Linked DNA regions of Homo sapiens: region 1 is linked to region 2. A link means that fine-mapping ties the variant in region 2 to the expression of a gene that starts in the linked region. Tissue or cell type: transverse colon. Region 2 holds a variant in brackets; the other region holds the start of a gene. All regions are shown on one strand. Distances are from middle to middle.

What was found. PIP is the estimated chance that this variant, and not a neighbour inherited with it, causes the effect.
Region 1: PNP starts here. The variant in region 2 is fine-mapped to the expression of PNP in transverse colon (GTEx, PIP 0.98).

What each region holds. Positions count from the first base shown.
Region 1 is chr14:20,466,323-20,474,429 of GRCh38, reverse strand. PNP (purine nucleoside phosphorylase) reads right to left here and starts at 5,024. Exons shown (of 6, transcript NM_000270.4): 1 at 4,895-5,024; 2 at 1,953-2,122. The coding sequence starts at 4,905. RefSeq lists enhancers at 4,333-4,462, 4,493-4,562, 4,753-5,257 and a silencer at 4,973-5,092.
Region 2 is chr14:20,579,291-20,587,397 of GRCh38, reverse strand. It overlaps RNASE11 (ribonuclease A family member 11 (inactive)), which reads left to right. Exons shown (of 3, transcript NM_001394190.1): 3 at 2,902-4,506. The coding sequence starts at 2,924. The coding sequence ends at 3,523. Among named protein-coding and RNA genes, the nearest start is that of RNASE11, 4.7 kb to the left of the region's middle. The variant G/C (reference allele first, on the strand shown) is at 3,746.

The DNA.
Region 1 (8,107 bases), 110 kb after region 2:
CATGCAACACATATCCATTAAGCACCTACTGTGAGTTACTCGCTCTGCTCAAAATGTTAGGTTGTAATTAAGTAAAAGACTCATTATTATCTCTGCTTTCAGAAAGTTTAAGTCTGGTGAGAGAGCCAGGCATTACTAATAATTATACAAATACAACCCAAGATTAGAGATATGGGGTGCGTTCAGCATGTTCAGCATGAACACACAAAGAAGGAAGGGCTTTTTAAAGAAATTTCAAGATAATACAAGCCATACTGCCAGAGAGTAAAAAGTGAGCAAAAAAAGTAGATACTCAGAAATGGAAGATTAAATACTACATGTTCTCACTTATAAGTGGGAACCAAATGTGTACATATGGACCTACAGAGTGAAATAATAGACACTGGGGACTCGGAAAGGTGAGAAAGTGGGATGGGGATGAGGGATGAGAAATTACCTAATAAGTACAATGTTCACTGCTCAGGTGATGGTTACACTAAAGCACAGACGTCACCACCACGCAGTATATCCATATAACAAAACTGCATTGTACCCCTGTAAATCTATAAAAATTAAAATTAAAAATAGGCCAGGTGCGGTGTCTCACACCTGTAGTCCCAGCACTTCGGGAGCCCAAGACAGGCGGATCAACAGGCCAGGAGTTCAAGACCACCCTGGCCAACATGGTGAAACCTCATCTCTACTAAAAATACAAAAATTAGCCAGGTGTGGTGGCACATGCCTGTAATCCCAGCTACTCGGGAGGCTGAGGTGGGAGAATCTCTTGAACTTGGGAGGTGGAGGTTGCAGTGAGCCGAGATCACAACACTACACTCGAGCCTGGGTGACAGAGCGAGACTCTGTTTCAAAATAAAGTGAGTACAGTGAATGCAGTAATTATAGACCTCTTCAAATTTTTCAAAGTTCTCAAAACATGTATTCTTATCTATTGCCCTAACTTAATTACCTGCCTCCTCAGTCCAGCAAGCAAGCTCATAGTATACTTACTCTGGCTTCTTAAAGAAGAGGCTACTGAACAAGGGGGAAAGAATTTGAACGCATGCAAGTGTCTCTTTCCTTATGACCCACGGAACAGTCCTATGGGAACACATGCCCACGGAGGGGTGCGTGGGAGTGCAAAGATAACTCCCCACAGACATAACAGCCATTATTACCATTTCTTTTATCTGGCAGTCACTTCTAATAGACGGCCAACCTATCCCTTAGGGAATGGGAGAGGGACTAGAACCAAGAGGAAGAGCTGAGAAATTCTCAAAGATAGAGGAGCTTATGCAAAAAAACAAAACAAAAACAGTAATAAAGTTGACAAAGGAAACCCAAGTGGAGTATAAAAAATAAACATGTTGATAAGCTTAAAAAAACTAACCCACTTATCATTTAATGCAGTGCCCTTCTCACTGGGGGTAGGAGTGGCCAGTGGAGCCAGCGTCACTACTATCTCCCTTAGAGAAGTATGCCCTTCACACACCCTCTGTTAATATTTCCCTCACCTTCTCCCTCTGCTCTTCCAGTCTTGTGTTAAAGAGTTTAAAAAAATAGCTATTAAAGGTCTTTTCCTGCTGACAGGTCTTAAAAAAAAATTCTTAACTCTCCAGGGAAAAGAAGATAGAAATCTTAAAAATTAATAAATAAACCAACAGAAGTTAGTTATTTGAGAAATTACGTAAACCAAATAAACAACCCTTGCCCTTTACTTGGCCCCTGTCACCTGGCCCTCTTCTGAGTCTTAGCCTCAGTCCACTGACACACACATGTCCTGTCTCTTATGGGATGTCTGCTAGAGGCATCTCCTAAAGTCACTCTGACTCATGGTGGGCTTTTCTCCTCTCTTACAACATTTGTCTTCAGTGAAATGCTAGGTCAAGGAGTAGAAACATTGGCCTCCTTGGTTGTGTTCCACAGAATTCCAAGAACATCCCTCAGTCCCATTCCCCACTTTCCCTTGCCAGTACCTGTACTTCGGGGAAAGTTGGGGATTTCACCGTAGTCAAAGATCTGGGCCTGAGTTAATTTATCAGTCAGACCTCCTAATCCAGAACCACAGATTATTGCAACTTGAGGTCGGTGCTTAGTGTGAGACAGAAGCCATTCTGCAGTGTTCTTATAATCTTCATAGGTGTATCTGGGGGAGAAAAAATATCAAGGTGAATTCTGCTCCCATTCCAAGGGCATCACAGACAAATGACCTTCGGTGCAAAAAGGCTGGCAGGTATACTGAGGCAGCAGGGACGGAGAAGCTGGCACAGAGGGAAAGGCCATACTATGCTCTTCCATCTACTCAGCCACCCTTCTTTCTGAATCAAGCCCACTACAAGTCTGATATGAAACTACCTCCATTCTAGAGCCTGGCAAAAGTTAATAAAGCCTGTTTCTACTAACAGGCCCAACTCCAGTGTTGGATCCACTGAACACTGGCAAGCTGCATACTTATCCTTATGACAAAGGTTTAGAGAGGAAGGGGCCAGAGTGTACGGGGAAGTGCAAGGAAATAATCAAATTAGGGAGGGTAAAAGGGCTTGGCCAGGAGGGAGCCCAAGAAGAGTACTCAAAATGGGATTAAGCCCTTCCTGAGGGTGGTGCCCACCTAGTAAAATCCCCCTTATTACCTTACCTGTTCCCCAAAGACATTCAAAATGTAATTAAGACCAACTACTATGAAGGCAGAGATAAACTCAAATTTCCTTTTGAACCCTCATTCCTCCAGTTCCTTCCTCAGCCAAAGACTTAAGGGCTACATTTCTTTTTTGTTTTAACCAATAAAACACAATGGGACCACCCCTGGTAGAGGTCTACGTGCCATTCTTAGCTCCCTGGATCACAAGGGGGTTAATTCCAGACAAAAAACTAGATAAACTGCTGTACAAAAAAGCAGACCCAGTCCACAGTACTGGTTGTCAAAGGTTAAACCAGGACTGACTACACAAATTCTCAGCAGAAGCTTGTTAGAAAAACAGATTCTGGCACTCCAGCCTGGTGACAGAGTGAGACCCTATAAAAAACACACACACACACACACACAAAACCCCCACAAAAAACAGATTCTGAAGCCCATGTAATTTTGATTTTAAAACCAGGTTTAGGGGCTGGGCGCGGTGGCTCATGCCTGTAACCCCAGCACTTTGGGAGGCCGAGGTGGGCGGATCACGAGGTCAGGAGATCGAGACCATCCTGGCTAACATGTTGAAACCCCGTCTCTACTAAAAATACAAAAAAAAAAAAAAAAAAAAAAAAATTAGCCGGGCGTGGTGGCGGGCCCCTGTAGTCCTAGCTACACGGGAGGCTGAGGCAGTAGAATGGTGTGAACCCGGGAGGCAGAGGTTGCAGTGAGCCAAGATCGCTCCACTGAACTCCAGCCTGGGAGACAGAGCGAGACTCCGACTCCAAAATAAATAAATAAAAATAAAATAAAATAAAACCAGGTTTAGGAATTGCTGGTCTGGAGGGAAGCAGAATTCGACCTAGATTCTAGTCCCAATATTGTCTTTTTAGGCATGTAATTTGTGCTTTAAATTATTTTCTCAGGTATAAACAAGGGATGTAAATTGGCCCCATCTATCTTATAGGCTCAATCTGAAAATGAATTGAATACTTGCTAACAACTTCCAAAGACCTATGGCTCTGTTACACAAAGTATTTGAATCTTTCTCCTGCTTTCCACCTGCCTGTGGTCTTCTTCCTGTCCTTCCCCCTCCCTGCCTCCTCCCAGTTTCCTTTCTCTCCACCGAGGATCTTTGCTCTTCAGAAACCTCAGGGCACTTACCCAGAACCCCTACACTAGCAAGAATCAACCCGTGTTACTTTTCTCCCAGTTCCAAGTCCAGTTCTCTCACATCCATCTGGGAAGACCAAACGTTGCTTTCAGAGGTGGCAATGAGGTGTGACAGAGCTGAACACAACTAACCAAGCTTTCACAGGAAATTTTTTACTTGGAAAGCAGAGCCCGGGAAACCAGACATGATTGCACAATACACCAGGCTACCCTCAGGGAAGCAGTTGGATCAGGTAGGTTGGGGGCTGGTCAACGGAGCCACAGGACAATGGAGAGAAGCAATTAAGCTGGTAAAATGTTAATCAAATGGCATCCCCAAAAGGTGCAAAGGAAATGAATGTGTGAAGCTGCCGCCACATGGCATGTCTAGCCACATCTCACAGCACTTCCTCATTGGCTATCAGTCCCCTCAAGAACACCCTGGCTCCCTGGGCATCCAAAAGCAACTGTGATGCCTAATGCAGGTCACTTGGACTGGGATATCCAGGACCCAAGCCGAGAGAAGAGTTTTCAAAGGCGTGGGGTGGGGGAAGTGAGCACAGGACTGTTGCTCAGTTCGGTGACTGATTTCCGTCTCCACTTAGCAGTCACTTCCCACCGAGTTAATCATACTGCCAGTCTGGAAGGAAGGGAGGAGTGCAACTGGCAAAGGAGGTGAGTAATCTTGCCTCTAAAGGAGGAACTCCGAATTTGAGCACCAAAAGTACCTCGCAGCTTTACCCAGACCCTAGCATGGGAATTTATGAAGAGCGCAGGGGGTGAGGAGACCTCCTCCTGGTATGGAGTGAGGGATATATACATATACTCACTCTCCACTTGTTCCCCTAACACACACACGGAGACACACAACGGCTGCTTTTACGGAGTAGCTTAGACCGCACCGACCTGTCCCCTTCCTGCTCCGGTGGCGCCACCCCAGCTCGATTCCCGCGTGCGTCCCTGCCCGCGCTGGCTGCCGCATGACTCTGCCGCCTTGCTCCCGACACTAGGCTCAGTGCCAGGCCTCTCTGCATCCCCTGGGCGCTCGCTCCCTCCGCCAGCTCCCTCTGGGCCCAGTGTGCCAGGTTCCCGGGTCACAGCACCTGCCCCTCCCCAAGGGTCCTGCGGGCCTGGTGCCCTCCTCACCCGTTCTCCATGGTCTCGCAGACGCCTTCTCGATGAGCCTGCTCCGGTGTGCTCCGATCCGCTCCGATCCGATCGGATCCGCTCCGCTATGCTGAACTGAGCAAGGCTGCCGGGTCTGGTTCGCACAGTTGGCTCACTGGTCTAGGCTCTGGCTTATATCCCTTGCCCTGGAGTCCCCAGCCAATGGCAAGCGAGCACGCGGGCCGGCCCTGTCTCCATGGTGACACACCCTAATTCAATCGGCTGAACCTGGGCTGTAAACCTAATCAGAGTTCTTCCCAGCCCTAAACCTTCTGCCCCGGGGCGGGCGGGGGGAGCCGGAGCGCACCCAGCATTTCATCTCGGTACCCATTCCAGTCCGCAGGGCAGGAGTTCCCAGCAAGAAGGCCTATGCGGAAATAGGGCTAGAAGTAGGGAGGAGAGCCCCCAGCCCTCTCCTTGCAACCTCATTCCAGCTGTGTCAATAGCAAACCGTGAGAGATTCAAAAAGGAAAAATTTCATACCTTAGATTGTACAACCCCAGAATAAAAATGAAGCGAGACTGTGTCTGAGTTGCTCCCTGGACAAGGGAAGCTGGGTCGCCCCCGGCAACAGTGCTAACTTGGAGGATACAGGGTTTAGGAGAGCACATCCAGGCCCAGACCGGGAGAAGAAAAAGTTCTCAGGCAAGAATTCCGGGGTCCTAGATGCCGACAGAAAGGATAAGGATGGATTTGGTGGGTAGGGACACAGATAATCCCTTGATCTGCGCAATATTGATCCAAGCAATTCAGGTAACTAGAGGACTCCTCCCACGAAGAAAATTCTGTTATCGGAATACACGGGTACCAGAATATAACATAAATAGCGTGTCTTTGGTAGAATACAACTATTACTTCTGCCCACATTTACAATTTAATTTTTACATTTAATTTACATTTTTACATTAAATTTACATTTAATTTTTAATTTAAAAAATTAAAAAAAAATTTATATATAAAGGCCAGGCGCGGTGGCTCACGCCGGTAATCCCAGCACTTTGGGAGGCCGAGGTGGGTGGATCACCTGAGGTCAGGTGTCGGAGACCAGCCTGGCCAACAAGGCAAAACCCCATCTGTACTAAAAATACAAAAAATTAGCTGGGCGTGGTGGCAGGCGCCTGTAATCCCAGCTACTTGGGAGGCTGAGGCAGGGAGAATGGCTTGAACCCGGGAGGTGGAGGTTGCAGTGACCTGAGATCACACCATTGCACTCCAGCCTGGGCAACAGAGTGAGTAGCTGGTTCCTGAGAACTTACTAGCACTTTGAAAATAACAATGCACACAAATTGAAAAAAAAATTTCGTTCTTAAATAACCACAAACAGTTACTTACGGGATATGTACATCTGTTTGGCACTACTCAACTTCTCACATGCAGGAATCCAATGCTGCCACCCTCATTTTCTGTTCCATGCTGATTTTTACACAGTACTTTTTTTTTTTACTTAATACTTAATTTTTATCAGAGGGACCTTCTAAAACCATCTTTTGTAAAGATATGTTGTCTTTATATATATATATATTTTTGAGACAGGGTTTCACTCTGTAACCCAGGCTGGAGTACAGTAGCACGATCTTGCCTCACTGCAATCTCTGCTGCCTGGGTTTGAGCCATTCTTTTGCCTCAGCCTCCCGAGTAGCTGGGATTACAGGTGCCTGCCACCATGCCTGGCTAATTTTTGTATTTTTAGTAGAGACGGGGTTTTGCCATATTGGCCAAGCTGGCCTTGAACTCCTGACTTCAACTGATCTGCCCACCTCGGCCTCTCAAAGTGCTGAGAGTATAGGCATGAGCTACCACACCTGGCCAGATATATTGTCATCAAAAGGAATGTAGCACAATCTAATGTTCCAACTGTGAATCACCTCAAGTTAATAGGTCACACAGTGTTTAAGAAATATAAAATATTGCTGTGTTTCCTCTGAAAATTAAAAATATTCCACAATACCCTTGTGAGCTTGTACTTTGGCACAGTTTGGGAACCATGGCCCCAGTCACTCCATGCCACCTCATTCCTGAATCTATGTAGTGTAAATGAATGGGCTCTAATAAAACTACCTGTGTATGAATGCCATCTTCACCCCTTATTTACTCGTGTGATTCTAGGCAAGTAAAATTCTTATTATGCTTCAATTTTTTCATCTGTAAAATAGCAATAATCTTAGTATTTTTGCAAGGATTATACAGAATACCTTTTACATGTTTAGGTAAATGCCTGGATATATAATAAGCACACATTAAATGCTGGCTATTATGATTAATCTCCATTGTCTCTTTCTCTTTTGTTCTTTCTAGACTCACCTAACCATAAATTGAATCAAAATAAAAACTAGAGGTATATCCAGCCTATCAATACCAATGAATCCCACACTGTTCAAAACAGAAGGCACTAGCCATGTGTGGCTATTTAAAAGTAATAAAATTAATTAAGATGAAATATAATAAAAATAATTCAGTTACCTAATCATACTAATTACATTGTAACTTCTCGATAGTCACATGTGGTTAGTGGCTACCATATTGCATAGCATAATTACGTTTTTATGCTAGAGCACAGCACTGTTCTTATCTTTTCTAGTCACTGCCACCTTGTATCCACATAAAAGAAACTGGAACTGTGCTTTATTATTTACTTTTAGGGTAAAAGAGTTCCTGTAGCATTCCTATAGACAGGAACCAGACGATCATCAATCTTAGTGTGATTAGAGTTCATTAATGCCTTATTACCTTTTCTTCTATCTTCTCATCACTTCTATCTTCAGAGGGACTCCTTGTCCAGGAACATACTTAGTAACACACTTACCCTCCACCCGCAAGATCAAGGAAACTAAAAAAAAGTGGCAGGAATAGGTTCTAAGTCACTCAGTATTGCCTTGTGGAACGTATTTTATTCCTGCCCTCTCAACTGAGATCTCTTATTCTCTCTAGATCACAAGCTAAATATGCGGTTTTAAAAATATCTATCCCTGGCCAGGCACAGTGCCTCAGACCTGTAATCCCAGCACTTTGGGAAGCCAAGACAGGAGGATTACTTGAGCCCAGGAGTTTGAGACCAGCCTGAGCAACATGGTGAAGTCTCATCTCTACAAAAAATACAAAAATTAGCCAGGTGTGGTGGCATCTGTGGTCCCAGCTACTAGGGAGGCTGAGGCAGGAGAATCACCTGAGCCCAGGAAGTCAAGGCTGCAGTGA
Region 2 (8,107 bases):
TCAGTGCTTTTTCTCCCCTTCTTCACCGAAGCTCCTCCTTTCTAATTAAAAATATCTTGCAGATAAAAGTATAACTGAGATGAACCAATAGGATGTATCCTCAGAGTAATTTCATTCAATAGGGATCAACACCAAATTCAAATGAATTGTGACATTTTAGACATTCGTAGTTTGGGTGTGTGTGTATCTATATCTATCTATCTGTATCTAAATATGTATATACATATATATTATACAGATATATAGGATCAGAGTCTCATTCTGTTGCCCAGGATGGAGTGCAGTTGTGTGATCACAGCTCACTGCAGTCTCAGACTTTTGGGCTCAAGAAATCCTCTCCTCTCAGCCTCCCGAGTGGCTGGGACTATAGGCATATGCCACCACAACTGGCTTTTTGTTGTTGTTGTTGTTGTAGAGATGGATTCTCACTATGTTGCCTAGGCTGGTCTTGAACTTCTGGCCTCAAGTGATCCTCCCGCATTGGCCTCCCAAAGCAATGAGACCACAGGCATGAGTGACTGTGCCCAGCCAGGTATATTTTTTTAAAGGGCACCTCTTAGCAGTTTCAAATAAAACCTAGGCAGCTGTGAATGCTGCCCACTTGAAATATATGTCTCAGAAAGACTGGAAATTTCTGCCCTGCTCTTCTTCCTGTTTATCTTTCTCCTCCTGGTCTTTCTGTTTCCCTATTGTCACCTCACTACTGATGTCAATGGTATAGGATATAGAAGTTTAGGAAACAAAATAAATTCCCTATAAATCCCTCATCCTTTCTGCCTTCAAAATGTATCAGGTCTTTGGTCAAGGCATCCTTGGACACACACCTGGACACATATACTTAATTCTTAATAATCTATCAATAATCCATCAACCCAATTAAGGCTTATGTATTCTTGGTGCTAGGTTTTTCCTCTAGTTTCTCACACAGACATTTTAAATTCAAATATAATTTTTTAAAAGTTCATACATAATAACATCAAATGAGTGGTATAAGAAGGGAATGATAAGAAGTTCAGAGAAGTTGGAAATGGATTTAGTAGACTTAAGCGGTGATGAAACATGTAAAATAAAGAATGAGATCTGAACTGGGCTTTGAAGGATTTCAAGAGGCAGGAAAGAATAGCCATTCAAGAAAGAAGCTAAGTGGGAGAGATGGCATAGGGTATATTAAAAAAAGAGTCACACTGATTGACTAGGGCAGGTTTGTGTAGCAAAATAATGGGAGATAAATCCCGATAGGCAGATTGAGATGAGAGCAAGTGGAGCATTGGCTCCTGGGCTCAGGGGATCAGACTTCCTACTGTGAGCAAAGAGGAATGTTTCAAAAATTCTGAGTGTTGTTGCAAGTTATGTTTTTAGAAAAGTAGTGTATAGAAGAAATTGGAGGGTCAGGAAGGGGTGATTAGGAGGGAAGTAAGGGTAATAATGTAGGAGATCAATGTAGAAGGGATGGTGGCTTTAGAGGTGGAACATAAAAAAGAGGAAAATAGAATCATTCTAAAGAGAGAGAAATAATTATTAACTTAAATAACCTTTCTTTAGGGATTTTCCAGGATTGACCTCAAGTAAAGGATTTTATATACTAGTAAGGTCATGTTATGTTGTTAACAAATAGTGTTGAGAAATTAGTGTGTGTGCAGTAATTACACACACTAAATAAAACTCAGGCAGCTATGAATGCTGCCCACTTGAATTACATGTTTCAGAAAGACTGAGAATTTCTGCTCTGCTCTTCTTCCTGTTTCCTTAACATCTACTCTTTAGCACTATAGTAAACTCTTGATTATTTATACTAACTGGAGGAGTGAAGAATGCAAAATTGTGGATAATTCCATTAAAATTTATAACTGATCCTGGAGTGCAGATTCTTTATTAATCTACAGTTCATTATTTGATTCTATATGAATAAAAGTATAAATAATCAGAAACTGTGTTTCAGGCTCGAGGAATTTTTAGCCTAACAAGAGGGAGAAAAGATTAACATGAATTGACTAACTGGAAAAATGAAAAAGATCATATAAAATGAAGTGCAACTTAATCTGTGCTGTAGGGTTTCAGAAAACAAAAAAGTCATGCTGGGTTTTGGTATAAATAGACAGAAAATATTTCACAGAATAAGAAGCAATGGTACTGCCCAGGTCATTGGGATTCCGACTGCCAAATGGGCACTTTGTTCAGTTCTCCCTGAGCTTCCTTGGTTCCACGTGGTCTCCTGAGTCAATCTCATACAACCCTATCTACCCCTCTGTTGCCCCTCCTTCCCTCAGTTAGACACAACAGCAGAAACTCCCAGGAAACAAACACGATTTCACTTTTAGCTCTGCAACAAAGTGGAATCTTCCTCTACAGGATCAACTTGCCGAAGGAACTGGTAAAGACAGAAATCTTATGAATGAGAATGGGTGGCAAAAGAAATGAGAGATGGGGAAATGGCAATGTGTGTTTTATTTTGTTTTCGAGTGGCTACCATGTGCCAGGTTCTATATGAGGCTATAGGAGATACAGTAATGGTGAGGGAATGTGTTGAGTGAGAATCGTGACCCACCATGGAGATTATACACCCCACCAATGAGATTATAGACCAAGGGAAAAGGATAAGAAACAAATACTTGGTTGTAGATCTTTAAACATGTCACCTTACGTAATTCTCACAATTTTTTTCAGATGGGGAAACTGGAGTTAAATAAGGTTGAATAAATTATAAGCAGAAAAGCAGGAATTTGAACATGAGTCTTCAGACTCCACAGCTGATTGTCTTTCTATTATATCATAGTTCCATTCACAGATATAAAAATTTTAACCTACATGTAGGGGTCCCTACCAGGAATAACTGTCAGGAGGAAGAAAGAACTACCTCTTTAATCTTCTTATTTTATCTTTCATTTATTGTCTTTACTGCAGAAGAGATTACACTACATCTGAGATGGAGACCTTTCCTCTGCTGCTGCTCAGCCTGGGCCTGGTTCTTGCAGAAGCATCAGAAAGCACAATGAAGATAATTAAAGAAGAATTTACAGACGAAGAGATGCAATATGACATGGCAAAAAGTGGCCAAGAAAAACAGACCATTGAGATATTAATGAACCCGATCCTGTTAGTTAAAAATACCAGCCTCAGCATGTCCAAGGATGATATGTCTTCCACATTACTGACATTCAGAAGTTTACATTATAATGACCCCAAGGGAAACAGTTCGGGTAATGACAAAGAGTGTTGCAATGACATGACAGTCTGGAGAAAAGTTTCAGAAGCAAACGGATCGTGCAAGTGGAGCAATAACTTCATCCGCAGCTCCACAGAAGTGATGCGCAGGGTCCACAGGGCCCCCAGCTGCAAGTTTGTACAGAATCCTGGCATAAGCTGCTGTGAGAGCCTAGAACTGGAAAATACAGTGTGCCAGTTCACTACAGGCAAACAATTCCCCAGGTGCCAATACCATAGTGTTACCTCATTAGAGAAGATATTGACAGTGCTGACAGGTCATTCTCTGATGAGCTGGTTAGTTTGTGGCTCTAAGTTGTAAATCCCACAGAGCTTTAGGACTAGGGTCTTACTAAAGAAGGACCTCTTCTTGTTCATTCTTGTTTAAACCTTTCCTTAATATCTACTCTTTAGCACTATAGTGAACTCCTGATTATTTATTCTAACTGGAGGAGTGAAAAATCCAAAATTGTGGATAATTCAATTAAAAGTTATGACTGATACTGGCGTGCAGATTCTTCTCTCTCTATCTCTCTCTCTGTGT[G/C]GGGGGAGGGTGGGGAGGGTGTAAAACAAACTGAATTTCATCCTAGCTCAGCTATAAAGCCAAGAAACAGAATCCACCTAACTAGGCAGAATTAAGGAAACAAGGACTAAAGCCAATATGGACAATGAAAAGCTAATTGTACTGCCAATGATACTATTCAGAAAAATAGTGAATGAGTGTGACATATATTATTATCACTACTCTCTTCAAAGGGTATGTGCTCACACTTGTGTGAATTGATGTATGCACATAACAAAGAGTCTGCCTGTCCTTCAGGAAATGCCAGAGGAAAAAGATTCTTTGGCTGAGCTGATGCTCTCAGTGTCAATAGCTCCAGCCCTATGCAATCTCCATTCTTCCACCCCCATCTCTATTTCACAGGTTGCTGTAAAGAGAAGAAAATTCTTATTGTAATCTTTATTCAAGCCAAGTCTTGATACCCTGGGGCTGTGGGAGAGGAATGGCAAGCCATGGAAGAATAGAGGAGCCAGAAAGATGGGAATAGAAAGTCTGTGCTAAGTACCAGGCAGGACTGGTCTTCAACCTTGATGTCTTATGATACTGTAGTTAATTTTGTTCACTACCAGCTATTTATTTGCAAACGTTCGTGGTTCAACATTCTGCTTAAAGTATGGACAGTTATCTTCTTCATCGATGTGTGGCCATATGTTTCTATTCCTCTCCTTAAATCCTCCCTCCATCCTGAGACCACTCTTTCTTAATGTTCTAATTTTAACTAAATGCATGTAAATGTATGTAAATTATGTCATGGTAACATCTTTCTTGTACATAATTCTCTATATGTCATTTTCCCGAAGCTTTATCATATTTGGTGCAGAATTCTCAATATACTGGAACTGTAAAACATTTACAATCAACCAATTTGCAGCATTACAGCAACATTTTTGTACGTTTGAGCTGGCTTTCCCTTGTCAGTGTAGGCGTTGTTTAAATAATCAATGTGGGTTTGGCCAAACAGGTATGTAATTAGGACTCAGTTTGCACTCGGCAGCCAAAGGACAGAGCAATAAAGCAAAATGCTTGGGTCCCAAAGGTCTCTTCTCTGTAGGAGGAGGACTCAGGACCCAGAAAGGAAGATGTGCTTACCGAGTTCCATCCCAGGGATAGCTCCACATAGTGAGTCTGATGCTACCACCCACTCATCAAAAAGAAGGGTGGACTCCATCCACAGTAGAGTAGTCTAAGCAGTCTCCTCTTGTTCAAATTTAGTTCAGATTTGAATAACTTCTTTCCGACAGTAGATTTCCAGCTCTGGCTGAGAGTCATGTCAGCCTCAGAGCCTAACTATTTAAACTCTGGGAGAGTTTTCTTTAATGTGTAAGAAAAAGTAAATGCTGCCTACTTCAAATTGAGTACTCATATCATCCCTCACCAGAAGAGAAAACAAAGACCCAGAATAGCTAGCTCTTTTTGGGCCAGGAGCATCCTTTAAAGAGGCTTAGTTAAGACCAAACCCTTCCACTTCTCTGAAGGAAGCGGAAGCTCTGGGTTCCAGATACAGTCCAACAAATGTTTCTTGCACATGTTAGAAAACTAACTGAGAAGTGGGCCGGACGCAGTGGCTCACACCTATCCCAACACGTTGGGAGGTCAAGTCAGGTGGATCACTTGAGGCCAGGAGTTTGAGGCCAGCCTGGTCAACATGGTGAAACCCGGTCTCTACTAAAATAAAATCACAAAACTTAGCCAGATGTGGTGGTGCACACCTGTAATCCCAGCTATTCAGGGTGCTGAGGTGGGAGGATCACCTGAACCTGGGAGGCGGAGGTTACAGTGAGCCAAGATCACACTACTGCACACCACTCTGGGTGATAGTGTGAGACTCTGTCTCAAAAAAAAAAAAAAAAAAGAAAAAAGAAAAAAAGAAAGAAAAGAAAAATAACTGAGAAGTGAATGTGTGTTATATCCCTTAGCTGAAAGAAAACATTAGAGGGCATGAGATGGGATGATAAAGGAGATGGACCCAATTTAAAAAGGGCCAAAGAAGGGAGAGTCAGGTAGGAGAAGGAAGCTGAGGATGGACAGAGGATGGAAGGATACAGAGGTTTGTGAAAGACACCAACAGGGGTTGTTTAGCCTAAAAGGAGTACCCTTCTTGTCTCTAACATTCCCTCTGCTTTCCCAAAATAAAGTATATTAAATATCTCTTAAGCAACAATTATGAAGAAACAAGTCCCTGGCCTCAAGTACCCAAGATGGTACTGAAGGAAGGAGTGCCTTTGCCACATCACCGATAAGTCTTCATATGTTCTGTGGCGGGGCTCACCATGCCTTCCAAGAAAGTCATTTCCCCTCATTGAGATTCAATTTTCTTATCTACACAAGGAGGAAACTGGATTAGGTCTGGGTTCTCAGGCATAGATGTGCATCAGGATCACTGTGGCAAAGTTTTCAGGTTAGCCACCCAAATCAACCCACCTTGCTCCCAAGGCAAAGGGATGCAGTGAGGCACAGGATGCCCAGCCAGACTGACTTTCCCAGTCTCTGTGAGCAGAAGTAATTCATGCTGCTTCCAAGTCCAGGTCTTACAACATTGGACTGGCCTCCTCTGTGACTTTTTTCTTCCCAACAGCTAGATCGCCAAAATGGACATGTGTGCCCCAACTTTAATCATGCAGATAATGGCAATGTCCTAGAAATGGCCTGAACGGTAAAATGGAAGGAGGCCACATCCCTGAATAATTGTTAAGCACAGTTATTTTGCTAGCCTGGATTGCTCATTTTGGGACTGTTATATGAGATTAAAATGTTTATATATTTTTACCCACTATACTCTGATATTTCATTCCATGAGCTTAGCCTTACACTAACAAATTCAACAGCTTTTGGAGCTATTATAAATACAAATCCCTGGGCCCCAATCCCAGAAATTTGGCTTCTATCGATCAAAGATAAGACTGTAGCATGTGGGTCTTTTAAAAGTGCATTAGGTTTATTGATGTGCTGCAAAGTTTGAACTCTACTGGATTAGATGAACTAAAGTTCTCTTTTTAATCATAGGACATTCTAGTCCTGATGAAGGAAAAAAGCTTGCTGCGTATATATTCAGAGCTTTTGAAGACAACACTGAGGCAAAATAATTCAGTTTAACTCAAAGAGCTTCCACCTCCTACACAGTCTCCCAGAACTAGCAAGGCAGTCCTTTTATGCTGAAAGTCCTTCACTATAGGGTACATCTGTGAGCAAACGCAAAGTCACTGTAAGAGGAACTCATGTTTCCAAAACAGTGACAAGTTAAAAGAGGTGTCACACACATGAAATGCCTCCTTTTCACTCCAGCAACCAGAGAACTGGCTGATTTGGGATAACATGGCTGTTTTAAATCCTTAATCCTTCAGGTTTCAAAGCATGCTGAACTTATTCGAAATCATATATAGCAATCATTACGAAGATGTTTAATGGTAATAATCATAATAACAATAGAGCTTTTATGATGTGCTAGGCACTAGTTTATTTACTTTTTATTCTCAGAAGAATGCCCAGGAGGCAAATACTATTATTCTTCCCCCTTTAGCGATGAAGAAACAGAAGCACAAAGACTGTAGGTAATGTACAAGGTCACGTGTATAATAGGTGGCCCCCCAGGAGCAAACGAGGATAGCCTGATTCTGTAGGCCACACTTTTCGCCACTCATCTTTATTTGAAGGAAAACAGCAAACTTGCTTATAACCACACAGAAAGATAAAGGTAGAATGCTCCTGAAAAAATTCTACCTCACAGGATTGTTTTGAGGATTAAATGGCAAACCATTATGATTAATTTCATTATGATTAAATAAGGACACTGTGCTAAGTAGATAATTGAAAAAAATTCAATGTATCAAAAGGATTGATATCTTTAATATATAAAGAGGTCATCAGTTTAATAAGAAAAAGATGTAAATGTAATATAAATTAAATCAAGGGGCTATCATAGTTTGCCTACCCAATCCACACAAATAAGATTAAAAATAGAACATAGTGGGGGCATAGGTACAGGAAGGGGATGTTCTCATGCAGTCCTCCCAGGAAAGCAAATTGATGCATTTGCTGTCTTTGAGGAGAGCAATGTGAGCTAAGCCCCGTTCTAGTTTCCAGGCCCTCTGCACATTTGGCTGCTTTGCCTCCTTGTTGACACTCCCCTCTCCTCTTAAACCTTCTTTAGGTAAGAGACTTGCCCCAGTCAACTCTGGCCGAGGTGGTCTTTGAGGAGGCGTCCTCACTGGAGGCTTGAACAGGTCCTGAGGTTTGTCTCACACAGGGTCAAAGGGCACGGTCACAACGGCTGGCCAAGCTTCCGGGCTCTGCTGCTATGCATGTGTTCCCCTCGTCCTCCCCAGCTCAGGCTGTTCCAGGAACCCC